Homo sapiens: one gene and its partner. The protein of the gene in region 1 interacts with the protein of each later gene in a biochemical or structural test. Each region holds a gene or a part of one and is shown on either strand. Other genes may lie near its edges.

The links.
Region 2: the proteins of SDC4 (region 1) and CSRP3 form a complex in vitro, tested with the Homo sapiens proteins (one study listed by IntAct).

Annotation. Positions count from the first base shown.
Region 1 is NC_000020.11:45,345,281-45,360,758, reverse strand, and holds the start of SDC4 (syndecan-4 precursor), read left to right. Parts: upstream 1-12,334; 5' UTR 12,335-12,374; coding exon 12,375-12,434; intron 12,435-15,478. UniProt on the Homo sapiens protein: Cell surface proteoglycan which regulates exosome biogenesis in concert with SDCBP and PDCD6IP.
Region 2 is NC_000011.10:19,193,760-19,209,609, reverse strand, and holds the start of CSRP3 (cysteine and glycine-rich protein 3), read left to right. Parts: upstream 1-7,626; 5' UTR 7,627-7,656; intron 7,657-12,690; exon of another isoform or gene 12,691-12,897; intron 12,898-15,850. UniProt on the Homo sapiens protein: Positive regulator of myogenesis. Acts as a cofactor for myogenic bHLH transcription factors such as MYOD1, and probably MYOG and MYF6.

The DNA of each region.
Region 1 (15,478 bases):
CTGTCGCTCAGGCTGGGGTGCAGTGGCATGATCTTGGCTCACTGCAACCTCCGCCTCCCGGGTTCGAGCGATTCTCATGCCTCAGCCTCCTGAGTAGCTGGGATTACAGGTGTGTGCCACCATGCCCAGCTAATTTTTGTATTTTTAGTAGAGATGGGATTTCACCATTGTGGCCAGGCTGGTCTGGACTCCTGACCTCAAGTGATCTGCCCGCCTCAGCCTCCCAAAGTGCTGGGATTATAGGCATGAGTCACCATGCCTGGCCCGCACTTGGCTTTTTTGATTTTTCATTTAATTTTATTTTTTTGTAGAGACAGGGTATCCCTATGTTGTCCAGGCTGGTCCTGAACCCTGGGCTCAAGCAATCCTCCCACCTTGGCCTCCCAAAGTGTTAGGATTACAGGCATAAGCCGCTGTGTCCAGCCAAGATGCCATTTTAGAATAAAAGAACAGGAAAGAAGGGAGGAAGGGAGGGAGGGAGAGGGAAATAAAGGAAGGGAGATAGTAAAATAGGTGGTGGAGTAGCAGGAAGTGGAAAAGGGGCAGTGAATCTCTCTGCTCAGTTAGCCCTGGGGTGAGGGATTAGGGAGAAATGGGAGGAAAGGCTTAGAAAAGGGCTGCAGAGGTTGACAATACCCAGGGCAGCTGTCTTCCTTGCAGATGCTGGAATGCGTGGCTCTTCCTGGGCTCTGCTCCCTTCACGTCACAGCTGGGCCCACTCCACCCCATCTCCTCCCAATAGGAAAGGCCCTGCCTACCCATTCTGCTGAACTAGAAAACACAGGTAGCTTTTGATATTAGGGCTGGCTGGAATGTCTGATGTCATCCCTGGAGTCCGGAGCTCACCTCTGGGAAAACCCCACTGGGCGTGCAAGCTAACCTCCTGCCCTTTCCTTTCCCCTTTGGGAGTTCAGTTCTTGGATTCCCGCCTTGCCAAGCTTCGGAAATGTACATCATCCTCCGTCTTAATTTGGATCCAAGAAGGAAACCAAGAGCTGGGGAAAATCATGGCAACCCCTTTGTTTAGCTTCATTGGCCCATTTTCAAATTTGACCACAAGCAGTCTGCTTCAGACCACAGAGTCTGAACTAGAGCCCCACTGGCTTGCTATGTGACCTTGGGCGAGTCCCCTGGTGGGTCCCAGTATCCCAAACTATCAAATGAAAGAGGGACATTGGACTCCGACTTGCAGATGCTGTCATGGCCCTGTGCCATCTGAATCACCTGAGGAACATACTGGATATTCAAATTTCCAGTCCTTGTTTGCAAACCTAAGTCCAGTTCAAGTCTCCCAAAGCAGAGTGTGGAAATCTGTGTATTTAGAGAGCTCCCCAAGTGATTCAGAGGTGCACCCACATTTGATAACTACAGCACAAGATGATCTGTAGTTGACCCTAAACCGGCTCCTTCATCCAACAGAAAACTGCTCTGTGACCTTGGCGAGTCACATTCCGGCTTCAGGGTTTTCTTCCATCTGTAATATGAGGGGATTGGATTTGAATAGCTAGCTGGTCTACGAGGGTTCTTCCTACGCTGCCAAGTCTGTGGTTCCAAACTTATGAATGAAATGTTAAACTTCAGGTCAGAGGCAGAGTGACGAAAAGCCACAAGCTGGGACAAACTGTCCTTTGGGTGGAGGGGAGGGGAGTGCCTCTGGTCACTTGGTCTCTTTCGTCACTTTCACACTGGGGCCCCACTGCATGCATGTAAGGACAATCGCTAAGGTCACCTTCTGGATCCACCCCCATAAATCCCTTGGGAAATGTTCTCCCATAGGCCCATAGGCTTGAGAGCCCTGCTTAGATTCGAATCCTGGCTCTCTGGCTGTCTTGCTGTCCTGCTGGGTGACCTTGGGAAAGTTACTTCATGTCTCTGAGTCTCAGTTGGTTTCCTCTTCTATAAAGTGGAGTTCAGAATAGTACCCATGTTATGGGCTGTCCTGAGGGTCAAATGTGTGCTTAGTCCACTGCCTGATATGCAGTGGGCACTATGTTAACCTCAGCAATGTTAATATGATTGTTATTATTTCTTCCTCTGGAATGTGGGAACGGAAATGCCTGATCTCAGATTTATGGCAAGGATCTAACAATGTATCAGACAAGTCAAGCCCGGTGGCTGGCCCATAGTAAGAGCACATTAAATGTGATACCTTCTCTTCCTCCTCTCACCCCTACTGTCGTGTTCTCTAGATCCCTCCCTCTCTCCCTTCCTCCCCCTCTCCCTTCCTCCCCCGCTAGGCTGCCCTACTGCCCTGCTCACATGTTTCCTTTCAGGGAATATTTGATGAAGACACTTCAGTAGAAACACGTGTCTCAGGGACACGTTATGCAACTCTGTGCTCACAGGTTTTTGGAAACCCCACGTGGGAGGCTTGGAGTTGGCTGCCTGTCCTCTACATCGGTGACCATCCTGGGCTCTGGCCAGTGAGTTCCTCTCTTAGAAGGAAAACTGGAGAGAGAGCTCATTAGCTGCCTGGTTTCTCCTCCAGACCGAAAACCCCTTTGTTACCCAGGTTGCTTTAAGTGCTGTTTGTGTCTGTGTTTGGGGAGGAATATTTGCTGAGCATCTACTGTATGACAGGCACTTATATAATTTAATCCTTATTTAATTTCTAAAACAAGCCTGTGAGTTGAGAACTATTAATAGCCCCACTGAACACATGCAGATCCTGAGGCTCAGAGAAGGGACATTTACCCAGAGCCATGCTGCCAGTGAGTGGTAGAGCTGAACTCCAACCCAGGCCAGTTTGACTCCACACACTATTCCTTCTCAGTGTGTAACAAAAAGCGCACTGAAGGCCAGGCAAGGTGGTTCATGCCTGTAATTCCAACACTTTGGGAGGCTGAGGTGGGTGGATCCACCTGCAATCAGGAGTTGGCGGCCAGCCTGGCCAACATGGAGAAACCCTGTCTGTACAAAAAATACAAAAATTAGCCAGGAGTGGTGGTGCATGCCTGTAATCCCAGCTACTTGGGAGGCTGAGGCAGGAGAATTGCTTGAACCTGCGAGGCAGAGGTTGCAGTGAGCTGAGATTGTACCACTGCACTCCAGCCTGGGTGACAGAGTGAGACTCTGTCTCAAAAAAAAAAAAAGGCACTGGACATTACAGTGACATACAGCTTTCATCTACCTGACCTCATCTTATTGTTGCAACAGCCCCAGGGATGTAGGTATAAACATTGTCCACATGTTACAGGTAAGGAAATTGAGGCTTAGAGAAGGAAGTGACTCACACTCAGTACACATTGAGGTGTGGCATGTCTTGTCAGCTGGAATAATCAAAAGTTAAGAAACATCTGGGGTGTCTGTCTTTCCACTCTAACTTTCCACCCCAACCTCCCTGTTCTTTCCTTCACACCAGAGGGAGTCAGGAAACTGGTTTTCTGTGTTCTGTGTCTAATGATCAGGGGTTTTCTGCAAACCCTCTATCTATGCAGGGTGGATGATGCCAGGCATGACAGTGGGTGGAAGGACCTCTGAGTACAGCCATCCCTCAGCATCCATGGGTGGTTGGTTCCAGGACTCCTGGCAGATATGAAAACCCAGAGAAGCTCAAATCCTTTATATAAAATGGTATAGTATTTGCATATAGTCTATGCAATCTTCCCACATTCTTTAAGTCATCTCTAAACATCTAATACAATGTAAATAGTTGTGAAACTATATTTTAATTTTTATTTGTATTATTTTCATTGTTGTACTGTTGTTTTATTTTATTTTATTTTTAAGACGGAGTTTCACTCTTGTTGCTCAGTCTAGAGTGTAACGGTGTGATCTTGGCTCACTGCAACCTCCGCCTCCTGGGTTCAAGTGATTCTCCTACCTCAGCCTCCTGACTAGCTAGGATTTACAGGCATGTGCCACCATGCCCGGCTAATTTTGTATTTTTAGTAGAGACGGGGTTTCACCATGTTGGTCAGGCTGGTTTCGAACTCCTGACCTCAGGTGATCTGCCCACCTCAGCCTCCTAAAGTGTTGGGATTACAGGTGTAAGCCACTGTGCCCGGCCTTTGTTGTTATTTTAGAGACAGGTCCTTGCTCTGTCACCCAGGCTGGAGTGCAGTGGCGCTATCATATCTCACTGCAGGCTCACACTCCGGGGCTGAAGCAATCTTCCCACCTCAACCTCCTGAGTAGCTGGGACTACAGGTGCATACCATCAGGCCTGGCTATTTTTATTTTATTTTATGTAGAAAAGGAATCTCACTATGTTGCCCAGGCTGGTCTCAAACTTCTGGGCTCACGTGATCCTCATGCCATGGCCTCCCAGAGGGCTGGGGTTACAGGCATGAGACACTGTGCCCAGCCTCACACCTTCAAGTTTTCTTACCTTGATTCTTGACCCCATCCATCATGTACTAAACTTTCTGTCCCTACCTAGAAATTATTCTTTATTCTGACCTTAAAGGACTCAGGGCCTTGTTTTAAGATGAAAAGTTGTTTTTTTACACTTCCTTTTTATCATTATTTATTCATTCAATCATCTACTTGATAAATATTCATTGAGCATTTATTATGTGCCAGAAACTGATCCAGGTGGTATGGATATAAATGAATAAAGTGAATAAAGAGAAAATACTCTAATCTCATAGAGGAGAGAGATGATAAACAAGTCAATCAACAATATAAAATCTAGCGTCAAGGAATGTCAGTATACTCAGAACACCAACAGTGTGGGATTCTGTTATAACATCAGAAAATGGATGAATACAATATTTATCTCTGCTCCTTTTAGGACAGGACACTTGGGAATCAGGAACAGGAATCAGGGCTGTAAGTTCAGTGAGACAGCATGGTGATGCAGACAGAATCAAAGAAACTTGAGTTTGAATCTTGTATCAGTCAGCTTTTGCTACTTAACAAACACCCCACAAATCTCAGGGGCAACAGAAATGGATTTCTCAATTGTAGATTTGCAGGTGGGTTAGGGCAGCTTTGTTACAGTTACGGTTTTGTTGTCATTTCTCCTTGCTCCGCCTGTTTTCTCATCTGTAAAATAGAGATAAAACTACTTACTTCACAGCATCCAAGTGAAGATGATGCTCAACACTCCCTTCTGATTAAACATACACTCTGCTCAGGGTATGTGAGAAGCTAAATGTTCAACCTCTAGGCCAAATAGTAATCCAAAAAGTGGTCTGGGCTGCAGGCGCTTACTTAAGGAATAAGGAAGGCCATTGGCCAAGCCAATGAGTCTTGTGGTCCCCTCCCAAAATTTAGACTAGAAGAGAGAACCAGTAAGTCAGTAAAAGAGAGAGAGGCACACATCCAGGAAAAAGAAGAGACACTCTTAAAGAAAGAATAAGCAGGCTTAAAGAGCAAGAGATGAGTCAGCCAGTCTGTGGCATCATCTCAGTCCTTGATGTTTCCCTTTCAGTTTTAACCTTTAGCCCTCCCGGTCCTCCTAATAACTCCTAAGCCTTTTCTTAAGGAGTCCTGAGTGAGGCATGTTTCCTCGCAATTGCAAGAACTGAGCTAAGACAGAGAAGATGCATATAAAGTTGCCAGCCCACAGCTTGGCATATAGTAGATCCTCAGTCTACTGTATAGCTGGCAGCTATTGTCCGCTAATCAGGGAGCTGCTTAAGAACACGGACAGGTCTTGTTCACCAGGATTTATCAAAAAGCTTCTCACATACAAGATATTCATCAGATGTTTTTTGGATAAATGACCAAGTGAGTGAATTGCTACATCTGAGCCTCTAAGGGAAAATGTCCAAATGGCATTCATCCAGTTATCCATGCGACAAGTATTTACTGAATGTAAACCTCTGCCAGACCTTGGACAAGGTGCAAGGGATGCAGTTGTGAACACAACAATGTTCTTGCCCTCATGAAACTTACATGTGGCAGAGAAAACAGAAAATAAACAAGTAAAAGAATAAGTGCGTGATGGCAGGTAAGGGAAATGTTACGACAAAAAAATAAAGCAAAGCAAGTGGAAAGAGTAATTGGAGGTGTTATTTTTAGAATTCTTCAAAATGCCTGTGGTGGATGCTGATTCACCGTGTGGGCCTCGGTTTGCCTATCTTATAATGCGGGTACTGTTGGACTGAATGATTTGAGAGGACCCTTCTGGGCCTAGTGTTCTTAGTTTCTGTGGTTATGCAAGGCAGTGGCTGGACATTCCACAGCCCCTGGAAACTCTAAGCTGTCATTATCTGTAGCTGGAGAGAGATTTACATAAACTGAGGAAGACCAGAAAGGGTTGGCACCATCCTGGGCGAGAGCCCTATGGCCCAATCCTTTTTCTGTTCTGAAAATAGTAATGTGTTACCTGTTATTAACCATGTGTGAGGAGCTGCTGGGGAGGGGAGTAAGTCAAGACTCTTATGGGGAGGCCCCCTTGATTATAAAAATAGATAACACTTTGATGCTCCGTATTGTGCTAAGCACTGTAGTCTTAACATTTTTATGATGTTAAGAACTATAATGACCCTCAAATTACATGGGGGGACACATGAGAAAACTGAGGCACAGAGAGAAAAAGTGTCTTGCTCCATACCACCAAGATTGCAATCTAGGTCTCTTTAACTTTGAAGACTGTGCTCTTCACCTAAAACTAACATGAGTGAGAAAGGGATGCCTGCCCAAAGAGTGGGACAGATAGAGTCCTAGAAACCTCAAGGCAGGAAGAAATGAGAATTAAAAGAAGAGGATGGAGGATTCCAGGAGAAGGTAGCATTTAAGGTGTCTCTGGATGTACCAGGTGTGCACCTAGCCTTGGTTAACTCCGGCCTAGGAAGTCTGAGAAAAGGGGGAGGGACACCACCTCTGCTATAGGCTGGGTCTGAGCTCATTTTTTAGCTCCATGGGAGGGGGCTGCCTGTTGATGTCCTAGATCATTTCCTTTTGCTTGAAAGGAAGCTAGGGGGAGGATGTAAAGTGTTTGACCAATGCCATCTCTCAGACTCACTCAATCTCAGGTTAGAATATACAGAAAGAGTGCTGGACCCAACATAGGTGAGTATATGTTATGTGTTCACCACTTCACCTTATTCCATTCTCCTAATTAGTTCAAGAGGGAATTATCTCCATTGTAGGGAGGAGCAAAGGGACTCACAAACTTTCCTCCAGTTGGCAAGTCCTGGAAACAGGATTTTAATGAAGAACTTCTGGCTGTAAACACTGTGGGTTTTGTTTGGTTGTTTGGGTTTTTGTACCTCAGCCCCATGCAGGAAATTAGGAACTCCTATTCAGTATTACAAACCTTTGACTACTGCATTTTGTTTTTTGGAGGCCAAAGAAGAACCCAATAAAACTTCTCAAAGAATCTCAGGTTTTGGACAAATTATTTTTAACTCTTTGGGGGTCAGGATCACCCAAAAGGAGGATCCCCCAAACATCCTCTTTTTGTGGATATAAAGAAAGAATCTGAAGTTTCTTGCCCCAAAATAATGTATGCAGAGACACATAACCTAGAGGAGTACTGACCATGCATGTGTCCTCTGCCCCCAGTCATGGAGCCCAGGTTAAAGACCCATACATCCACAAATAATTATATTCAAACATGTTGCATCCCTTTAGAGATTCTCAGAACTTGGGGAAGGGGAAATTATTTCCTTAATTCCAGGAGGTTAAGATAGTTTTATAGAAGAACTTCCATTAACTCTCTAAACGAGCTGTTTTCAGTTTTTGTTTTTGTTTTTTTGCTAGTGTACTCTGTAAATGATTATTTTAAGACTAGGTACTCCTTGACATAATTTTTAGTTGATAGCTTAACATTTTTCATCAAAAGTTTAAATAGTTGCAAAGGTTGTAATTTCTGGCATATTGTAAATTTATACACGTAAAAGTAAAACAATTACATCACTCTTTTAAATGTATCCAGTTAAATTAAATGCCCTAGCAATTCGATACCTACAATCATCCATTTAAAAAATACATGAACAAGCTCTTTTCTAAGAGTCAGACATTTTGCATCATTTCTTTTTCTATTTGAAGTCAAATTTCTACTCCATGTTCCACCACAAAATTTTATCATAATGTGTTTTTTTTTAATGCGTCAGAGGCTTACTGATGACTCTTTTAAAAAGTCCTGCAATAATTTAAACAGCTTCATTAAGGTACAACTGGCATAAAATAAGCTATACATATTTAAAGTATACAATTGACATAAATATATGCTTGCTGTGTTAGGCTGTTTGCGTTACTATAAATATATGAGATTGGGTAATTTATAAAGAAAAGAGGTTTAATTGGCTTACAGTTCTGCAGGCTATACAAGCATGGCTCCAGCATTTGCTTCTGGCGAGGGGCTCAGGAAACTTCCAATCATGGCGGAAGGTAATGGGGTAGCAGACATCTCACATGGCATCATCAGGACCAAGAGACAGGGAAGGTGGAGTTCCCAGACTCTTAAACAACCAGATCCAGCGTGAACTGAGAGTGAGAATTCATTTATCACCAAGTGGATAATGCTAAACTATTCATGAGGGATCTGCCCCAGGATCCAGTCACCTCCAGGCCCCACCTCCAACATTAGGAATCACATTTCAACATGAGATTTGGAGGGGACAAACATCCAAATCACATCACTCTCTAAACCAGTCCTACAAACTTTGATAAATAATTATTAAGTAGAAAAAGTAAAGTTGTTTTAGAAATACCTGTCTTAATTAGGTGGCTGTGGCAATTTTTCTCTCCAATTAGCTCACTAAAACCTCCATGAGATTGGGTATAGTCGCTCATGCCTGTAATACCAGCACTTTGGAAGGCCGAGGCACGCGGGTCACTTGAAGTCAGGAGTTTGAGACAAGCCTGGCCAATGTGGCGAAACCCCATCTCTACTAAAAATACTAAAATTAGCTAGGCATGGTGATGTGCACCTGTAATTCCAGCTACTTGGGAGGCTGAGGCACAAGAATCACTTGAACTCAGGAGGCTAAGGTTGCAGTGAGCAGAGGTTGTGCCACTGCACTCCAGCCTGGGTGATGGAGTGAGACTTTGTCAAAAACAAACAAACAAACAAACACCTCAACGAATATTGCTAGAATGAAACAGGTTTTAGCAATAATTTTATTCCTATTTTTCATTTTTTATAGCTGTCAAACCATGGTGTGGTAAAGCCATCTTGTAGTGGTTCATGAAAGTCAATTTTTAGAAATTTTGTGGCTGGGTGCCATGTAATCCCAGCACTTTGGGAAGCTAAGTTGAGAGGACTGCTTGAGCCCAGGCCTTCAAACCCAGCCTGGGCAACATAGTAAGACTGTGTCTCTACCAAAATAATAATAATAATAATAATAATAACAATAACAATAATAATAATAATTAGCTGTGCGTGGTGGCGTATGTCTAGTCCCAACTACTCAGGAGGCTGAGGTGGGAGGATCTCGTGAGCCTGGGAGGTTGAGGCTGCAATCAGCCATAATTTTGCCACTGCACTCCAGCCTGGGCTACAGAGAGAGATCCTGTTTTTTTTTTGTTGCTTTTTTTTTTATGTCATTAGCCAGTTGTTAAACATAACTATTACTAAAAATTAATTTATATGAACATACAATTATATTAAAAAAAAAGGAGGCCGGGTACAGTTGCTCACACCTGTAATCCCAGCACTTTGAGAGGCTGAGGCGGGTAGATCACGAGGTCAGGATATCGAGACCATCCTGGCCAACATGGTGAAACCCTGTCTCTACTGAAAATACAAAAATTAGCCGGGCATGGTGGTGTGTGCCTGTAGTCCCAGCTACTCTGGAGGCTGAGGAGAATCGCTTGAACTTGGGAGGCGGAGGTTGCAGTGAGCCGAGATTGCGTCACCGCACTCCAGCCTGGGTGACAAATTGAGACTCCGTCTCAAAAAAACAAAAACAAAAACAAAACCATAAAGGAAATAAATACTCAAAACTCATCACTTACTAATTATCTCACTACACTTTACTGTTATCCATGCTTTTGAGATTATTTGCACCTATTGTATCTGTGTGGTAGAAATATATCTTCCCAGCTCCATGTTCAGTGACATCTCATTGGTAGCTTGAAATCAGCCATGCTGGTAGTATTTACACTACAGAAATTGGCAAATTAGCACTCGCCACTTCCCCTAGCCAATTGTCAAACATTTACTGGCACACCACTGGCTGTAAGTGCTGAGAAACTTATAAAAGTTGGTAGGAACAGAAGAACTCTTGTTACAACAGTGTGACAATAGATAACTAAAATCACAGTTACCTATTCTATATTTAATGATCTATCTACTGACAACTAGATTAGGCCCCCCTGCAATTTTGTGGAAAGCAAAGATTGCAAACCATTTAACTTGCAAAAGGATTTCTTATTCTGGCATGAGATTTCTTCATTTTCTCAGTTTTGTTCCAAATCCTAGGGAAGCATGTTAAAAACCACTGAAAGTCATTGCTTACCTTTAAATCTGTGGAAACCCCGTGGTCAGCATTTGAAGTTTGCTTTACTGCCAAGGTTCTCTGCCACAAGAGACTTTTATTCTTTGATAATAATTAAGAGGTGGAAAAAGGGAAGTCACTACCAATTCTCCACTCCACAAAGTATATGAATTCATAATATGCCAACAGTGGCCAAAATGTCCTACTTCTAAGGCTATGTTACACCCTTAGAAAGATTTATACATAAGTCAGGGAGAGACAGGGTTAGGCTTCTTTTGTACTTCGATCATCGTAGAATGCCCACCTTCACACCCTGCAATAATTCCAACAGTACGTGTGCTTGGGGACCCAGAGAATTTTACAGTCTCCATATAGCACCCCCCTCCACTTCTTCCCTCAACCTGCTCCCACCAATGCACTGTTAGGAGGATGAAGGGTAAGGAGGACACACAACTTTCTCTTATAAAGGGTGGAAGCTTACCCTAAGAATGGAAATAAACTTGCAGACCAGTTCTCAGAGAGATCAAACTTTTGAAAAAGTTCAAAATCTGGTAGATGAAGCCCTTAGAACAGACGTCAGCCACTCTGAGACCAGCGTCAGAGTGGTCTCAGAGTGGCTGAGGCCCACCGCCTATTTTTGTTCAGCCCACTGCTAAGAATGGTTTTTGCATTTTTATTTTTTATTTTTTTGAGACGGAGTTTTGCTCTGTTGCCCAGGCTGGAGTGCAGTGGGGAGATCTCAGTTCACTGCAACCTCCGCCCCTCGGGTTCAAACGATTCTCCTGCCTCAGCCTCCAGAGCAGTTGGGATTACAGGCGCAGGCAACCATGCCTGGATAATTTTTGTATTTTGTAGAGACGGGGTTTCAGCATGTTGGCCAGGCTGGTCTCAAACTCCTGAGCTCAAGTGATCCGCCGCCTCAGCCTCCCAAAGTGCTGGGATTACAGGCATGACTCACTGCATCCGGCCTGCATTTTTATTATAAAATGTCATTTATTTATTTATTTATTTATTTATTTATTTATTTATTTATTTTTGAGACAGGGTCTCACTCGGTCACCCAGGCTGGAGTGCAGTGAGCGATCATGGCTCACTGCAACTTTCACCTCTCTGGCTCAAGCAGTCCTCCCACCTCAGCCTCCAGAGTAGCTGGGCCACAGGGGTGCACCACAATGCCTGGTTAATTTCTTTAAAAACTTTTTGTAGAGATGGGGGTCTCATTATGGTTGCCCAGGCTGGTCTCCAATTCCTGGGCTCAAGGGATCCTCCTATTCCTCGGCCTCCCAAAGTGCTGGGATTACAGGCGTGAGCCATAGAGCCCAGCCGATTTTTGCATGTTTAAATGGTTGGGAATAAAGTCAAAAGAATAATAATATTTCGTGACACATGAAAATTATATTAAATTCAAATGTCGGTGTCTATAAATAATGTTTTATTAGGACCTAGCTGCCCTCATTCCTTTAGTATTTATGGCTGCTTTTGAGCTACGACGCTCGAGTTTGAATAGTTGCCACAGGGATCGTATGGCCCGCAAAACCTAAAATATTTAGCCCTTTACAGAATAGTTTGCTGTCCCCTGTCTTAACACGGTTCACATCCCATTTGGGAAGTTCTGTGTCTTCAGAGGGGAGCACACCCGGTATGAAGGCTGGTCTAAACTCAACACCCTAGGGAAGTCCTTCCCGTCCCTGGGCCTTAGTTTCCCCAACTATAAAATGGGGTTAGCCGCAGTGATCTCTGGGGACCTGCCTGGCAGTGGGTCAAATAAATAAAGGGAGTTGGAGCTCCCGGAGGGTAGGACTAGGGGTTGAGTAGGAGCCGGCGGGCTCGGGCAGGGCGGGTCCCTTGGGGTTTCCAACTCCGCGGGCGGGCGCAGTGCCCCGCAGGCCTCGCTTCCACTGGGGAATTCCGGGCGGGGTGCGGGCGGCGGGGCGGGGGCGGGCCGGGGCGGGGCCGGTAGGCCGCCTATAAGATGGGTGGCGCGCCCGCCCGGGGCCACTCGCCGCAGCCTGCGCGCCTTCTCCAGTCCGCGGTGCCATGGCCCCCGCCCGTCTGTTCGCGCTGCTGCTGTTCTTCGTAGGCGGAGTCGCCGAGTCGGTGGGTGCTTGGAGGTTCCCGGGCTGGGGGCGAAGCGGGGGCGCAGGCCGGTGCCTCCTTTGTTCGTCGGAGCGTGGGATGGGGGGGGGCAGATCGGGGGTACGCTACCCCCAACCGGACACCGAGGCCCGGGAAACTTTGTTGGAAACTTTGCTCCGGGGTCACGGGCCAGCCTCCGGGATGGCTTCACGCGCCGTGCGCCCCTCGCCTGTTGCTCTTCCCGCCTCCCCGGGCCTCAGCCCCGCCGCGGGCTACGGGCTCGTTAGTGACTAAGCCGGTGTCAACTCTTCAACTCCCACACCCTCGTCCCTTCCCTGGTGACCCTGGGGCAGGCTTGGAGCGCTGAATCCCCTCCTCGCTCTCGGGGCGCCCAGAGCAGACAGCTTTAGGATCCGAGATGGCCCTGGGGGTCGGGGGGCTGCGTGTACTCGGAAGGGGGAGGGTTTTAGGGTTGTGCGAGGCCCTCTTTCACACACCAAGGAGAACTGAGCCCTAACCTCAGTTCTGGCCCCAGCTCTGTCATTGACTTGTGACTTAGGGCAAAGTCCTGCCCTTCTGAATCTCTTCCCAATACTGCACCAAGGGTCTGAGGGAATGGGGCAAGAGGGGACACTGCGTTAGGGTTTCTAGAAAGTTGGGGACTCTGCTCTTTTCGAGGACAGAGGAGAGGAATGGTTTAGACTCAACACTTAGCCAGGAGCTGAGCCTCTGCTTTCTGCAAGAAGTGTGTTCATTTTTTCTCAATTGCAGATAAGAAAATTGAAGCATCCACCTTGAGTGAGGTGAAGGGGGTAGGGGGGAGAGAAGGCCTCAATCAGCCCAGGGAAACCTTTCCTTCTCACTGTCCACTGGCCTCCGTCATAGCTGTCCCTGGGCCAGCAGAAGCTCTATCCATGCCCGCAGCCGGCTTAGGAGGAGGGGGGCAATCTCATCTGGGAAGTTGGGGGGCATGGGAATTACTGGTGAAGGCAATCTGTCCCCCACAGCCTGAGCTTTGTGCCCCCTTTGTGCCCTTTAGCCCCAGTTTTCAGAGCGAGTGAGTCCTTGCAGTTTAACCATTAATGTTAATTTCTTTGAAAGCCTTGGGGCTCCTGTTCCTCTGAATTTACTTAGCGGAAGGTTGATTCTGCCTGCAGGCTCTTCTTGAGGAATGAATGAGACCCTAGGCAATACTTCCAGCACAATTCCAGGCATGCCATGATGATTGCAAACGTGGAGCGCCTTTGTCGGGGGGCCAGACATTGCTCTAATAACTTTCTAATGGGTATATCCAGGAGCTTAATTCCAACAACAATCTTACTGTGTACTGTTCTTAAACTGGTCCTGAGGCTAGAGAGGTTAAGTAACTTGCCCAGGGTCACACAGTTAATACACAATAAATGGGTGAGTCAGATTGAAATTTAGGCAGCCAGGCTTTCAAGTTTCTGCTTTAGCTTAACTTCTACTCTTTGTGCTACTCCAGGTGTCCCATCGTTGGTAACTAAAGACGGGTTTAGAATAGGTTGAGATTTTAGGCTGGAAGGCAAAGGAATTCTGAGGTGGAAGGAAACAAGGCCAGAGTGAGGTGATGACTTAACCTAAACCAAAGGCTACCTTGCCTAAAATGTTAGTGGCTGAGGACCCAAGCCTTCTGCCTCTAGCACAGTGCTCTAAACTAGGCCCTGAAGGATGTGTCGGGTCAAGCAACTGGGGAAGCATCCGAAGGGATACCACCTAGGCAGTACAGGGAAAAAGAGGAAAGGACCCAGGAGGTTGCTGAGGTCACCGTGTGCCCAGTCACATGCCAGTTTCCTCCCAGGGGCTGCTGAGCCTTCAGGTGCTTCAGGGTGCTGAGCAGTCAGCTGTGTCCTGGGGGCATTCTGAAGGATGTAGTTTGGGGGAAGGGGACTGTGTCAGTCCTGCCTGGGTGACCCATCAGCTGCAGGAGACATCAGCCCTGGGCAGCTGCTTCCTGAGATAGGTGTCAAGTCTCATCCTGACCTCAGCTCTCCCCTTCCTGGCTAATGTCACAGACCTCCTGCCTGTAACTGGGGCACAGGGCTTCCCCTTTGGCCTGTCCCCTCCCTCTTTTCTAGATTGTGGTTGGAAAAATCAGACATAGTCACGGTTGGCTCGGACTGAAGAGATGATCCAGCGTGTCCTTTTCTTTTTGCAGGTAGAGAAAAGTGAGGCCCAGGGAGAAGGACTTTGCTAATAGCAGTTAGGAGTGATAGAGTACTTTTTATATGACAGATCTGGTGCATTTTGTCCTCACAAAAAGACCTGTCACATGGGGATTCTATTATGCCCACTTCCCAAATGTGAGAGGTAAAATGGTACTACTTTGGGTTAGTAGAGGGCATCCAGGACCCCAGGATCTCTGACTAGTAGCCCTCCCATTGTGGGTGGTGTTCCCCCGACTGTTCCATCATTCCCCTTACCACCCCCATATTTTGGAAGGGAACCCAGGCTCAGTACCCAGCTGTCCTCTCCTCTGTTTGGCTGGGCTTGCTATACTAAACCAGTTCTTCCTGTCCAGCTGGGAGCATTCCCTGATCTGCCTTCCTGCCACTCCCTCTCAGGCCAATTAAAGGCAGCCTTGTTTTGGGAGTCCCCTCCACCCAAAGGTGTTCCTACCCAGGGGCACAGCCTACTGACTTGGCCCCGGGCCCAGGCGGTTGTGGGGAAGTGTCCCCCACCTATCACCTATCAAGTGTACTTTAGCTTAAGGACATTTCTGGTCTTCTACAGCGTCCTCTTCTTGATTACATGGGAGTAGGGGTGGGGGCGGAAGCCTAGGGGCTTCTAGGACCCTTGAGTGAACAGTGAGAGCTCTTGGGACTTCTTGAGCCCAGGGAGTTATCAAACACCCACGAAAATATTTGGGCCATGATTTGGAGGGTTCCATGAGGTTGGGGGGAGGCCTCTTTCCCCGCTGGGCTGACATCCCCCACCTTAAAATGAAAGGTTTGAACAGGGTAGCCTCCAGAGTCCTTTCCATCTCTCAATTTGATTAATAACTTAAGTACCTACTATTCAAAAGAGGTCTCTCTCTTGAAGGAATT
Region 2 (15,850 bases), on another chromosome or scaffold:
ACTAACAGAAGTCTGCGAGCTGAAGGGTGCCATCATCAGATCCAGGTTTTGAAAGATGACTCTGGTGGTGGTGTAACAAATGGAAGGGAAGTGGGAAACCTGGGTGGGGGGCTTCTGAAAAAGTCTAGGCAATACATCTGAACTGGGGCAATAAGAAGAGGAGGCACAAAGGAAGGGCTAAATTCAAAAGACATTGAAGTGCCTGTTGTTGACACAGGTGAAGAGTCATAAAGACTACACAGCCCATGGAAACACCTCCTAAGACAATCCCACTGATCCACTCTGAACCTCTGCAATTTGATTTACTTCTGTCGATTTGCTGGCCATGTGATACCCACTTTGGGGACTTGTGCTGCTCCAGGCTTCTCCTAAAGGCTTTGTACCAGCTGAATAGCAAATGTAGGCACAGCCTCTTCTGAATCTGTCGGACTGTTTCTGTAAAACCCTGCTAATCTCTCAGTGCAAGATAAAGTTAAGCTGGTACGTTGGCTATGTGGGTGCTCAGCCCCACCCTGTCCTCTCTCCCAACTACATAATGCCAACTAGATCAAATTCTGACTAAAGCAATTCTACTAGTTAAAATTTCCATCAGAGCATTGGCTCTGGAACAGAGAATCTGAGTTCAAGGTTTGACTTTACCATATACTAGCTGTGTAACCTAACTTCTCAAACAAAGTTCTTCATCTATAAAAAGGGGATAATAACACCTATATCTTCCCTTTGATTCAGAGAGAGGCAGAAACAGAGATAAAGGGACACAGAGGAGAGAAATTGCACCCAAGAGAGAATCAAACACATCATAGTGCTTTTAAGCTGAAAACACTGTTATCACAGCAAGCAGTGAATGGCCATGAAAATAAGGAGGCCCGTTTTTAAAAATCTGGATGATGTAAATAAATGAGCCATTTGTTTCATCAAGTCTCATTTCATTTCAGTAAAGATGACATTTGTTATTATTTCTTGGAAAAAAAGAACCATCTTGATGCACTTATGTGTTGCTTTGCCCATTTCCATGCTTTTCACAGACGCAACGCATGGTCAGGAGCAACCTCTGAATGGTAGGTTAGAGTTAATTCTCTTTTTGAAATAAGAGCCAGTGACAAATATCAGACCACTGGTGCACAGAAATAGTGAAAAGCCCTAGTTACTCAAAGAATGTGGCTGACATTGAATACATTATGGTCCAATTATGTTTCTTTTCAGAGCGGTTTAGATGAGCAGATGGAAGCTGAGATTCCCAAGCCTGCAAGTCCCTCTCACAAAATGTTCCCTCTTTTATGTGGCATGGTTTAGATCAGTGATTCTCAAAGTAGGAGGTGGGGAGCCCCCTAGGAAACATGAGAAATAATGCTAGAGTATGAGACAAAAGATTGAGACTTGTATTCTATTTAATATCTTTTTAGTGCATCATTGTGAATATGTTTTATACTGTGTGTGTGTTTGTGCACGTGTGTATTGCTCAAAAATGTTTTATGAGGGGACCATAATCAAACACATTTTGGAACCATGTTGTGGAAGGGTTTTGGGTTAGATCTGGGTTTGAATTTCCTCATCACCTTTGTGATGTGTGTTTCCCCCTGACTTACTAATTTTTAGTTATCCTAAGGAATACGAATGAGGAAGCAATGGATACTGGTCCTAACATCGCCGTGAATTTCCCGTTGACCTAACTGTGTGGCGTAAGAGATTTAGTTCATTTTCATGGACTGCATTTATTTCATTCCTCATTCATACCAGGGGAAGAATAATAATGCCTTCTTGACAAAGTTCTTGTGAGGATTAAATAAATCACTGTTTCTAATTGAGCTCTCTTTTTCTGATTTGGGGTATAAAGGCAGTGTTTTAAGGCATGTGATTTCAGGTCGCCCTCACTGTCCTGGTTCACGCTTTTGCCTGGTCTCCTTCATGCCCTCTGTTTCTCAATGGTTCACCTGTTTATGGTAATTCTGGGAACAATGAGGCAGAAACAGCAGGTTCCAGTCCCAGCACCACCAATTCACTTGCCATTGAGTGGACGTTCAGCTTGTACTGATTGAGCACCCTGCTGTGTGCACAACACGGGCTTACTGTCACCTATTCCTCATAGCATCTCAAAAGGGATTTAGGAATTTCTTCACTTTTCAGATTCAGAAGATGTAGAGCAGTGCTGTCCAAGAGACCTTTCTGCAGTGATGGAAGCATTCTGTAGCTATCCTCTTCACTGTGGAGGCACTAGTCACATGTGGCTGTTAAGCACTTGGAATGTGGCTTCTGTGACTGAGAAACTGACTTTTACATTCTACGTATCTTAAATAATTTCAACTTATATAGCCACGTGCAGTTATGGCTACTGTGTTGGACAGCACAGTGCTGGAGAATGCTGACAGACCCTAGAACTCCAGAAAGTGATTTAAAAGAAAATAAATTAGAGAGAACACTGAAAACAACACCATAAAAAGAAGTGTCCACTAACAAGTGAGAAATTTCAAAGAATTCCAGAGAGAAAGCAGAAGGCTGTGGATTAACAGAGCGAGAAGTCCTGGCCACAGCAGTGTAGCAGCGTGTGGCGAGGCAGGAGCTGTCCTGGGACATCCCAAACTTGCATGTCCTGGGACATGCAGAGTGGAAGGCACCCTGGGCTATCACAAGGGTGATGGATAAGAAGATGGGTCCAGGGCTAGGAGCTTTCCTCACTTTCCAGTGTGGCTCCAGACTAAGGGGCCAGAAATCCCAGGGAACTCCCCATAGAACCAGTGACCTCCAGAGAGAGTGGGACAGCTCACACCCAGGAAACACACCGCCACTGCACACACCTGGTAGCAGGCTCCATCCCTGTCCCACAGTCCCTGCGGGAAAGCTCCTTTAATCAGAGGTGGTATCCACCAAAAGGAAAACAGAAATTCTCAAATGACATGGTAAACACATATCCAAAAATCCCAAATATAGTTGAAAAACCAGCACTATGAAGATGAAACACCAAACTCAACACACAAAAGAACAAATATCCAAGAAAACATAATTGATAGAGCAAACAAAGAAGACTTCCCCCAAGTTAGTATAATGAATATCCCCAGAGAGATGCAAGATGATATGTCATTTATAAAGCAAGGATGGGCTATATGAAAAAATTAGGTATCTTAAAAATTATAAATGTAATTATTTTAAAATCAGTAGATGAGCTGAGCAGAATGTACATGGAGGAAATGCAAATTAGTTCCATGTAAGATTGAGCTAAGGAATTCTCCCTTAATAAACATAAAAGGACAAAGAAATTCTAACTTCTAATGAGAGTTTCAGCAAGAGGAAACATTACATATAGGGAGGGATTAATGAGAGAAATAATAAAAGGAAATTTCCTAAAGGAAAAAAAGTGAGTTTTCAAGTTGAACTCATCCACTAAATTTCAAGCAAAATAAAATTTAAAAGGCCGTAACACAGGAAATTGTCATAAAATTCAAGAGAAGATCCTGAAAGTTTCTAGAGGAAACAAGACAAGTCAATAAAGGAACATGAATATGACTGGCACCAAACTGTCATGTACGTTACTAAAAATAATTGAAGACAGTTTTCAAAGGTCTGACTGAAAATTATTTTGGATAGAGATTCCTAAATTTAACCAAACTAGCATTCAAGTGAAAGCAAAATGAAGACTATGAGGGGCGGGATAGTGTCCCTCCAAAATTCGTATGTTGAAGTCCTAACTCCCAGTAGCTCAGAACGGGACTGTATTTAGAGATAGGGTTCTTAAAGAGGTAATTAAGTTAAAATGAAATCATATGGGTGGCTCCTAATCCAATATGACTGCTGTCCTTGTAAGAAGAGGAAATTAGGACCCAGATACACAAGGAAGACCGTGTGCAGATACAGAGAGAAAACAGCCATCTACATTCAGAAGAAACCAACCCTGCCAGCACGTTGGTCTTGAACTTCCAGTTGCTGGAATTGTGCAAAAATAAGTTTCTGTTGTTTAAACCAGCCTGTCTATGGCATTTGTTACATTATGTGATAATTCAGTAAGTTTACAGCAGACTCTCTCAATGAATTCATCGAGAATGATTTACCTCACACACACACACACACACACACACACACACACATGCACACACACAGAATTAAAAATGTAAGGTACAAAAAGTAAATAAAGAACAGTAATTGGGAGGCTGAGTTGGTTGGATCACCTGAGGTCAGGAGTTCGACATCAGCCTGGCCAACACGGTGAAACCCCGTTTCTACTAAAAATACAAAAATTAGCCAGGCATGGTGGTGGGCACCTGTAACCCCAGCTACTTGGGAGGCTGAGGCAGGAGAATCACTTGAACCCAGGAGGCAGAGGTTGCAGTGAGCTGAGACTGCGCCACTGCACTCCAGCCTGGGTGACAAGAGCAAAACTCCATCTCAAAAAACAAACAACAACAATAACAAAACAGTAATTGAGTGAAGAAAGCACTAAAATTTATCATTAGGTTTAAGTAAGTACTAACCCATAATGAACAAAACTAATTACAATCCAAAACTGAAACTACACATCATGTTGTGGGGAGGTGTGTAAAGGCAAGTTCAGAATGTGCAAAGAGGGCAAGACGTGACGGTCAAAGTGCAGCATTCATTTCAAGCAAGGAAGCTCCTTTTATTTTTTAATGCTTAATTATAACTTTATTTTTTCCTTTGTTCTCCTAAAAAAATAAAACGGGATACATGTGCAGAGTGTGCAGGTTTGTTACATAGGCATACGTGTGCCACGGTGGTTTCTGCACCTATTGATCCATCCTCTAAGTTCCCTCTCCTCACCCATCCCCCACCCCACAGCAGGCCCTGGGGTGTGTTGTTCCCCTCTCTGTGTCCATGTGTTCTCATTGTTCAACTCCAACTTATGCATGGAAGCTCCTCTTTATTTATTTATTTATTTATTTATTTATTTATTTATTATGCTTTAAGTTTTAGGGCACATGTGCACAATGTGCAGGTTAGCTACATATGTATGCATGTGCCATGTTGGTGTGCTGCACCCATTAACTCGTCATTTAGCATTAGGTATATCTCCTAATGCTATCCCTACCCCCCCCCCCCCACCCCACAACAGGCCCCGGTGTGTGAGTTCCACTTCCTTGTCCATGTGTTGTCATTGTTCAATTCCCACCTATGAGTGAGAACATGCGGTGTTTGGTTTTTTGTCCTTGTGATAGTTTGCTGAGAATGATGGTTTCCAGCTTCATCCATGTCCCTATAAAGGACATGAACTCATCATTTTTTATGGCTGCATAGTATTCCATGGTGTATATGTGCCACATTTTCTTAATCCAGTCTATCATTGTTGGGCATTTGGGTTGGTTCCAAGTCTTTGCTATTGTGAATAGTGCCACAGTAAACATAAGTGTGCATGTGTCTTTATAGCAGCATGATTTATAATCCTTTGGGTATATACCCAGTAATGGGATGGCTGGGTCAAATGGTATTTCTAGTTCTAGATCCCTGAGGAATCACCACACTGACTTCCACAATGGTTGAACTAGTTTACAGTCCCACCAACAGTGTAAAAGTGTTCCTATTTCTCCACATCCTCTCCAGCAACTGTTTCCTGACTTTTTAATGATCGCCATTCTAACTGGTGTGAGATGGTATCTCATCGTGGTTTTGATTTGCATTTCTCAGACCTAAAACCATAAAAACCCTAGAAGAAAACCTAGGCAATACCATTCAGGACATAGGCATGGGCAAGGACTTCATGTCTAAAACACCAAAAGCAATGGCAACAAAACCAAAATTGACAAATGGGATCTAATTAAACTAAAGAGCTTCTGCACAGCAAAAGAAACTACCATCAGAGTGAACAGGCAACCTACAAAAATGGGAGAAAATTTTTGCAATCTACTCATCTGACAAAGGGCTAATATCCAGAATCTACAATGAACTCAAACAAATTTACAAGAAAAAAAAACAGACAACCCCATCAACAAGTGGGCGAAGGATAGGAACAGACACTTCTCAAAAGAAGACATTTATGCAGCCAAAAGACACATGAAAAAATGCTCATCATCACTGGAAGCTCCTCTTTTATCTGCTTTATATACTGATTTTCCTCTTATCTACAGAAAAAAGTATTCTGATGCAAACACACACACAAAAAAAATTTTAAAGCTACTATTGGTTGACCAGTTTCAGTGACTCAAGCCTGTAATCTCAGCACATTGAGAGGCCGAGGTGGGCAGATCACTTGACCCCAAAGTTTGAGACCAGCCTAGGCAAAATGGTGAAACCACATCCCTACAAAAAAATTAGCCAGGCGTGCTGGTGTGCGCCTATAGTCCCAGCTACTCAGGAGGCTGAGACAGGAGGATTGCTTGAGCCCAAAAGATCGAGGCTGCAGTGAGCTGTGATCATGCCACTGTACTCCAGCTTAGGCAACAGAACGGGACCATTTCTCTAAACAAACAAACAAACAAACAAACAAAAGCCACTATCCTAGACGATTTCTAAAGTCCTTTCTAGCTTTAACTTTCTAAAATCCTCGTGATTGCCTCGTCTTTATGATGAAGATGCCATTTAGTGAAAACACAGACCACGGATATCTCATAGGAGGCTATGCCACGGCCGTCTTTGTGAAATTACTGCAACCTTCTTGACAGTGAAATATTCTATCCTTCAACAATTGCTTTGTGGGCAGGTAACCAAAGGGCTAATATCTGATGTGAAGGCTGGATCATGAACCTCCCGGTTGGGTTCTACATGTACCTTACCTCAACATCCGGGTCAACATGAGTGGAAGGGGCTTGGTGCCTCAGTTTCCTCATCTATAACATGAAGAATTGGTCTTCACATCTCTGAACCTCTTGTCAGCTTTTCAATGCCATAATTTATATCAGTCCCTGGTGCTTGATCAAATTTAAACGGTGTGAATTCCAGACAAAGAAAAATTAGACCTCCAAAGAAAATATGGGTCTACAGAGACATATCAAGATGTTATAAATATAATGTGATGATGATAAATATGCACTGCTGTATCAAATTCTTAAATAGAAAAGGATAATAACAAAGTAAATCAAAACTTTTTAGAGAAAACTTCGTTTCCTAGGATAGATGGAGTGACAGGTCCCAAGTGATGTGCCAACCTTTTTTCTCCCAAGCTTCTTTGAAGAGATTATCTAAGTATCGTTTCAGACACCCATCACCCTTATTTTTAGCTCTGAGTTCTCTTCACGAGTGTGGTGACCTGTGGCTCTAAGTTCCAGAGGCTCCCAGATATGGCACATGACTCATTTGCAGGTACCCTGCAATGATTTCCAGGAAGGTCAGTGGGGTGGGGGCCTGGAGAAATGATTTTTGATGTTAAACCCTTAGCTCTTGTTCCTGTTCCAACCACTTGATCAGAAATGACACACTTCATAAATTGATCCCTTGGTGCCATAAGCAATTGGCAGTGCAAATAGAACCCAAGTGATTCGGTTCTCCAAGAGGCTCACAGCTGGCTGGGGGGTTGGGGGAGACAAAACTCAGGGCTTTGGTCACAGTCTATTTTCAGCCCCTGATAGCAGTTGTGTTACTCACGTCTCATTCACCCTCTCCCTTGGCCTCCCTCCTGCCCTTCCCCCAGCAGGCCAAGGCTGGTGACAGCCTTCATATATTTAAAGAGGACAAGAGCCCCTCAGACTCAGTTGAGCTGAACGGAGTCCACACAGGCAGGTGAGTGGAGCAAGGCAGACATTTGAGCTGGAGGTGGGTTGGTTCTGTGGCTGGTTTGGACTATAAAGGGTCCCATAGAGTAAGAGCACATTTTACGTCTCAAGTGCCAGCACCCTCTCTGGTTCTGTGCAAGGAGGCTCAAGTTGTACTTGACTCTGGTGTGGATCTAGCAGGTATTAAAAAATTCCTGCAAGGATGGTTAATATTTAGGGGGCTTAAGGGACCTCATAGGCAGATAAATGAGTAAAGAATTATCCTCATTATAAAACTACTTACGTGGTGGAATTACATTTCCTGTCATCTTAGTTGGAACAACTGGAAAGCGGGAGGAAATAATGGAAAGTCTGCTGACCTTCTCGTCTTACAACCACCATATAATTCATGGATGACAGACTTTGAGAAGGTTCCTGCCCTCAGGGGCTTGGTCTCCTCTTCTGCAAGGATCAATACAAATTGGCGACATTTTTTCCAAACTGTAAAGTACTGCACAGATACAAAGCGATAAGCGATTGTACTAGATGCAATATATAAGACAGCTTTCCCATGCTCAATTTACCTGGAATGGTGTTATTCAAAAGGTCGTGGTGAATGACTGAGATTTTGGGCTTGTTGATTTTAAATAGACTTTTGTATCCCAAAGATATTCAGCAACAAGTTTGCTTTTAATCTTTTGAAATTAATCAAAACTGGACCCCAAAAAGACATTGCTATGTTGAAATATATTAAAAGCTCTATTAAATGGGAGGATAATTTATCCAGTGGTTAGGATTCCCACTGTTTCCTCTAGGTTTTAGTCAAGGACTTTTTAAAATATCCCAGTGAATGACAGACATAGGTGTGATTGAGAATAAGAAGAGGTTTTAAGCAATGGTCTGAGTGGAAATGCTGCTGAAAGATCCAAGCTGCCGACTCTAATTTCTGCCCTGTTCCTGAGCCAAGGTGGTGACTCCTCCAAGAAGGAGGAGTTGAGTTACTGGTCTGAGGAACCTTGTCTCTGCAATACGATTCAATGTAATTTAATAAGCATGTATGGACCATCTCCTATGTCAGGGCTGGAGGGAGGTAGAGGCAGCTCTATGCAGGGAAGGGTATAAGTGAACAGCACGAAGAGTGGGAAATTGGGGATGGCCTGTGTCCTCAGTTTACATCTGGGATTAAATCTCAATGCTGGGTACATACAATTCATCACAATGCATGTAGAACTGCTTTATGATCCAGAAAATGTGAGGGAGTCTTATGACTTGGCTTTGTTCCCTTTCTGAACAACTCAGTCGTTTGTGGTCAGTGGCAATGAGCCCAGGCTATTGGGCAGGAGGTGTAGCTGAGCCCCAGGGCTTTGTGTCCTCCCTGGGGTTCAGGCAGACAGGTGCTCTGCAGCCCAGACACACGTGTCATCCATCAGAAACAGGAGACACAGGGCAAGGGGCCTCCTCCTTCGAAGGAGAGAAGGGGGGAAGGAAAGAGAGAAGGAGGGAGGGAGGAAGGGAGGAAGAGAGGAATGAAGGAAGAGGGAGCTGCAGCAGCATTCAGCCAGCAAATAGCCAAAATTCCCTTGGAGGAAGTGGAGACAGAATCTTGATAGAATAGAAACTCAGAAATCCTGGGATATTCAAGAAGAAAATAAAGATAATCAGTTATAGAGCCCGTTCAAATTATAGCTCTGAATATCACTTAACTTATCTGAGTTTCCATTTTCTGAACAATAAAACTAAGGGTAGCCTACCTCTATCAAAGGGACTTGTGAGAATTGAATGAGATAAAGTATAGGAAAGTACTTTTGTAAAGTTTAATATAACCGTACAAATATGTGAGAACGTTGAGAAAAGGCATACAGCCAAACCCAGTGGGTTTTGGGGGGGTTTCCTGCTAAGTACAAGCGTGCTGATAAAAGTCCAGAGGTCAGAGTGGGTAAGAAGCTGACCAGGAGTTAGAAGATAATTAATTTGTTTTACAAGAGGAAAGACCCAGGGCTAGGAATATAACACACAGGAAATACAAGTCTTGAGGCAGACAGATTTCCAGTTACAAGTGTGCTGTTCAGATATCTGTGAATAAATACTGTATAGAGGGTTGGGCTTCATGCACAAAGAGAAATGTGATGCCTGCAAATGTGAAAAACTGCAGTTATTCATCCCAGTGAAGAATGGCAGGAAGGGAGACAGTAATGGTCTTAAAGGGCATTGAGGATGGAGCCTTTTCTGAGCTTTACTGTGGGAAAGGGTTGATCATGATTTGATGGTCGTTTATGGCCTAGGCAGGCATGGAACGAGTACTAGCTTATTTAAGGGTCACAAAAAGTTATGCAAAACTCATTTTTCAGAGGAAGAAACTAAAGTTCTAGAAAGCTTAGGAATTGCCCAGCATCACATGGCTGAGAAAGCGGCAGAGCCAGGAGGTAAACTGGGATATGATGTGGTCTTTAGAAATAAATTGTAGAGGTCAAAATAGAACAAAGAGTGAGTTTTGGGAAGTAAAAGCTGGCCACGCTTCAGATATAATTTCACAAAAGGTGTAAGATGCCCATGTTCTACAGCCTTCATTTAATGTATGTCTACCATGTCTGAGTTTAAAAGGGGCTGAGAGCCAACACTCAGGTTTATTTCCATGCTGGCAATGAGCAACCTGTTCTTCCTGGGCTCTGTGAAAGGGCCTCTGGCCGGAGGACGTCATATATCTGGGTTCAGAAGCTCAGGAGGAAGCAGCCACTGACCTTGAATGTCCTACACCGAGAACTGAAGGGCATGAGCTCCCCAGACTACAGGGCCCCTGGCTAGGCATGCTGCCTCCAACCCAATCCAACAACGCAAGGGGACCGACTCTCACCCCGACCTGGGCACACCTGTCCTGGGGCACCGCACACTCCAAAGGCTGAAAAACAAAGCTGATTCACAGTCTGAACCAGAAGGGCCATGGAAAACAAGCAGGGAGTGAGTTGTTTGTTCTAAAAGAACAGACTTGAAAACTGGAGATAATGTAATAACAACAATAATAGTCATGATGCAAGTAACTACAATTATTCAATTCCTGCTATGTATTAAGTAATTCTATATGGTGTCTTAGCTATTATTATCTTCTTTAACCTGAAAACAACCTTCCCAGACAAGCCTTCTCATATTGTCTTTACATGAGGACATGCATTGAGGACACTGGGTCAGAGAATTTGAGCAACTTGCCCAGTGTTCAACAGTTAGTGTTTCTGAACTTAAGCTTGGTTCTTCCAAAGCCCATGGTTTTCACTGTGGCTATGTCATCTTTCTTACCCAAATTAAGAGTGAATAAAGGAGAGGGTTTGAGAGGGCACCCCATTGGGCAGCTTTTCTGCAAAGTGAGGTTTCAATCACTTTTCAGATCCTTAAATCTGTCTCAGGGCTTAAAGGACCCTTGAAGGGACTTCACTGTATAGCAGCCACTTGGACATCCGTCCCCACCTCAGCTGAAAATCAATAGTGCAGAAGAAATCTCCAGTTCCAAGGAAGCCCTTTCCATGTTGAACAGCCGTAACTCAGAAAGTCATTGATTTCAGTGAATGAATTCAGTTTCCCTGTTAGTCCCACCCTTGAATACCCTCTGTGTCCCATGGAGAGACAATGGATTGGTCACGTCTCAATTCCCATCAACTGGGAAGTCTGGGTGATGGAGGTGCTGACCCTTGTCCTCTCTCCAGTGTTATAAACAGGAGCATGAGATACAGAACCAGCTTAACGGGGGGTTAAATGGCAGCTCTTCCAATTACTAGCTGTGTGACCTTGGAAAAGCTACTTAAGCTCTTCAGTTCTCTTATCCATAAAAATGGAAATAAAATTTGCTCTGGGCAGCTGTTGTAAGTATTAAAAAATAATATATGTAAAGCAACTGACATAAAATAATATATGTAAAGCTTTGGAGTCAGAGAAACGTAAGTTCCAATCTATTCATGTGACACATATCAGTCCCATGAACTTGGACTAATGTAATTTCCCAAAGCCTCCATTTCCTCATCTGTAAAGTAAATGTTATAATAGCACCTACCTTGAAGGGTTGTTGTGAAGATTAAACGATACCCAAGGGCAGTGCTCCAGGCATGTTAACTTCAATAATAAAGTTAGAAATGACTATTACTATCGCTTAGATTCCATATATATATATATATATGTTCCTATGATCCAAAATCTTTGCTTCAGCCAGTGTAGACAATTGAACTCACTGCAGGAAATCAGGCATCTAGTAGGATGACCAACTGAGCTAGCACTGAGCTGAAAACGGTGGCATTGTGGCACTGTGGCTTGAGGTCTCTGCCCAAAGTCATGGCCTAAAGTTCCCTCCTGGGTGCTCATTTTATGTACCCACCACTTTTGCCCTAACTCATCATTGCTCAGCTTTATAGTTGGTAGTGAAAGAAGAAAGAAAGAAAGAAAGAAAGAAAGAAAGAAAGAAAGAAAGAAAGAAAGAAAGAAAGAAAGAAAGAAAGAAAGAGGAAAAGAGGGAGAGAAAGAGATGGAGAGAGGAAGGGAGGGAAGGAAAGGAAAAAGGATGGAAAGAAGGAGGGAAGGAAGGAAGGAAGGAAGGAAGGAAGGAAGGAAGGAAGGGAGGGAGGGAGGGAGGGAGGGAGGGAGGGAGGGAGGGAGGGAGGGAGGGAGAAATAGTTGGATTAGGAAGAATGTGCCCAAAATACACAGTTTAGTTATTCTTTTGAAAATTCAGATTGATGAATAACAACTTAAAATTGTGGGAGAACCTAATTGGTTCTCACATTTTATATTACTCTACAATTTACAGAATGATATGACAGTACTTGAACTAATAGGGTCCTCTCAGCAATAGTGAAATCAAAAGGATTATTGCCCTCATTCTAGTGAAGACACTGAAGTTCAGAGAGATTGAACGGTTTTCCCAGATCACACAGCTTCGAAGAGGCAAAATGGAACTAGAACTCCAGCCTCTGGCACCTGATCCAGTGTTTTTCCCACTGCCCCACTGAAGCACATTCCTAGTATAATCTCTTCTATGGTATTAGTTACATCTTAGTTTAAAAGTGGGCACAAGGTAGTCTCTCACCGGGATCTGAGTATCCAAATCTGGAGTCCAACCTCTTCCAAGTTGATGTCACAGGGCTGTCCATTCTATCTCATCCTCGTAAATTCCAGACTGTCCCCCATTTCAATCTTGACCCACGATTTGTCTTTGACAACATAGTCATCTCAGGGACTGGCCCAGAGAGTCGTGCCAGGTGGTATGATGGAGATTGTGACCCAGGTTACAAACAGGGCCGAGTGACGGGCAAGCCTATAATTGTATCCCACCTTCAATGACCCTTGCCAGTACCAGGCAACGCTGATAAACAAATGGCCCATCCCTTGGTACCTTGCCAGGGTAAGCTCACATTCTGGGAGTGTCTAGGGGAGTGTTGGGACACAAGAATTCCAAAGCAATGCGGGAAGCTGAAAAGGTTATGTTCATAAGCCAGGACCTAACTGGGATTTCAAATCATAGCTCCTTAATTAGCACATTGGTGCCATTTGAGTAACCTAAAGTGAAGTGGGAAAAAATAATTTCTCAATACTGCTTTAAATTCCATCATATTTCCATGACCTTCACAATGGTCCTGCCCAGGAGATACTATTATCAACATTTTTTACCCGAGTTCAAGGTCGAGATTAGAATCCATGTCTCTGGATTCCGAATGCCTTTTTATTTATTTATTTACTTATTTTTTCAGATGGAGTCTCACTCTGTCGCCAGGCTGGAGTGCAGTGGCGCAATCTCAGCTCACTGCAACTTCCACCTCCTGGGTTCAAGTGATTCTCCTGCCTCAGTCTCCTGAGTAGCTGGGACTACAGGTGCATGCCACCACGCCCAGCTGATTTTTGTATTTTTAGTAGAGATGGGGTTTCACCATGCTGGCCAGGATGTTCTTGATCTCTTGACCTCATGATCCATTCGCCTCGGCCTCAGTCCTGGGATTACAGGCGTGAGCCACCATGCCTGGCCTGGATTCAGGATGCTTTAAAATATCCTCTACCTTTTGGCCTGTGAGACATCTTCTGTTTAGCCTCCATGGTTACATTCCCATCTTCAGAAATGGAACTGAGCATCATTAATAGAGTACTTACAGATTTATATTTTAAATTTCAAGTCCTGATGATATATGTCAGATATTTATGATCGCTTAAAAACAACCAGTGCTAGGATACATTAGTTTGTGAAGGAGGTATTATCTGTAATCCTATTCTCATTTTGAAAAGTATGCCTAGGCAATGAATCCACACACACACACACACACACAGATATATATGTATTTTTATCCCCCAAGAGGTATCTCTGTCTCCTATTAACTTGCAAGACATGCCAATGAAATCTCCACTGCAAATCTGAAATGAGAAATTTGACCTAAGGTTGTTTTCATTGAAAATTTCTATATCATTAATTTTACAAGTGTCGCTGCCATGTTCCTGGAGGAAATTTATTATATTTCTCCTCTATTTTGTATCATGCTGAAACTCAGGATCAAAATGAACATGAGCAAAATTATGTGAGTCTATTCTTTTCTAGAAAATGTAACATCTTTAATGAGAGAAGAATGGATTGTATAAAAAGAAGTTGGCTAAGAAAAATATCCCTAAATGCTTACTTTTAAATACACCTTGGTTATAAATGAGAGGGTCCAGCAATCTTAAAAATCTATTCCAGCCCTGAAAGTCTGTAGTTTAAATGGAGTCCAAAATAAACAAATTTGGGCTATTTTAGAGGCTATTTAGGCCTCTACGCCTTTCTGCTTGCTCTTTTCTCTGCATGACTTCATTAGCATTATTCCTTCCCACTTTTCTGTATCTGGTGAACTCCTATTCACCCTTCAAACCCCCATTTGAATGTGATCTCTTCTGTGACCCTCCAACAGTTCACTGCCTTTATCCCCAGACTAAATGTGGGGAGCCAGTCCGTCATTTGAGTTTCTGTAGCATGTCTCACAAGACTCTTCTCTGGTACAGAGCATTCTGAATCTTGTCTATTTTTCTCACTACAACATGGGCTTCTCAATGCCAGGGGTCACAAACTACTCATTTTTATAAGTTTTCCCCCTTTTGTCACTGAGTACTTAGTGCAGTACTTGACACATGATAGGCAGGTAGTAAATGCAGGGTGAATGAATGAATGAACGAATGAATGTGAGTTTTAATTCTAAGTCTTTCAACTCAAAATCCATTACTCTTTCTAGTTTCCTAAACAACCCGAACTACAGAAATAGAAAAACCACATGCTTCCATTTTTTAAGAAATTCTTATTTATTTATTTTAGAGGCAGGGCCTCACTCTGTCACTTAGGCTGAAGTAGAGTGGTGTGATCATAGCTCATTGAAGCCTAGAACTCCTGAGTTCAAGTGATTCTCCTGCCTCAACCTGCTGAGTAGCTAGGACTGACTACAGGAGCATGCCACCACACCAGGGTAATTTTTTGGGGGGTGGGGTAGAGACAGGGGCCTCACTATGTTGCCCAGGCTGGTCTCAAACTCCTGGGCTAGTGATCCTCCTGCCTTGGCCTCCCAAAGTCCTGGGATTGTAAGTGTGAGCCACCATGCCCAGCCCAATGTTTCCTTTTTTAAAGTTCTTTTCTAAAATTTTACTGAATTAGCAGAAGATCCTACTTCTGTGAGAGGAAGGATAGGATGTTCCTGGCTAACCTCACAGTTTTTCTAAGCAGGAAAAGCTCTTTGGGGGAATATTTAGATAGAAACATTCCTTCTAGACCTAGTATCAGGTTCAGTGGTCTGTTTGCTATTTACTTTCTGTTTCTTAGCAAAAAACTGCCTTTGTTATGAGACTGTGAGATACAATCCGGACCAGTTGACCCAGGAGGGCTTAGTGTTAATCGCCAACTATTATAAGAAGGTGACTGGCTTCCCAGAAGGGAAAGTGAAGGTCACAAGCAGCCACTCAGAATGGCTGGATAGTGCTCCATGTCATGACACACTAGGCTTCTTAGAAACCAGAGGATCCCAGTGAAAATGCAGCTCCCCTGGGCAGCTGAATTTCAGAAGTTTCATTTAACATCAATGGCTTATTTTAGTTCTGCTTTGAGGAAACTGAAAACTTGGATTCATACTAAAAACATATGCAGATGAGGACAATTATTATTACTATTTTATTTATTTATTTATTTTTTGAGACGGAGTCTCGCTCTGTTGCCCAGGCTGGAGTGCAGTGGTACAATCTTGGTTCCC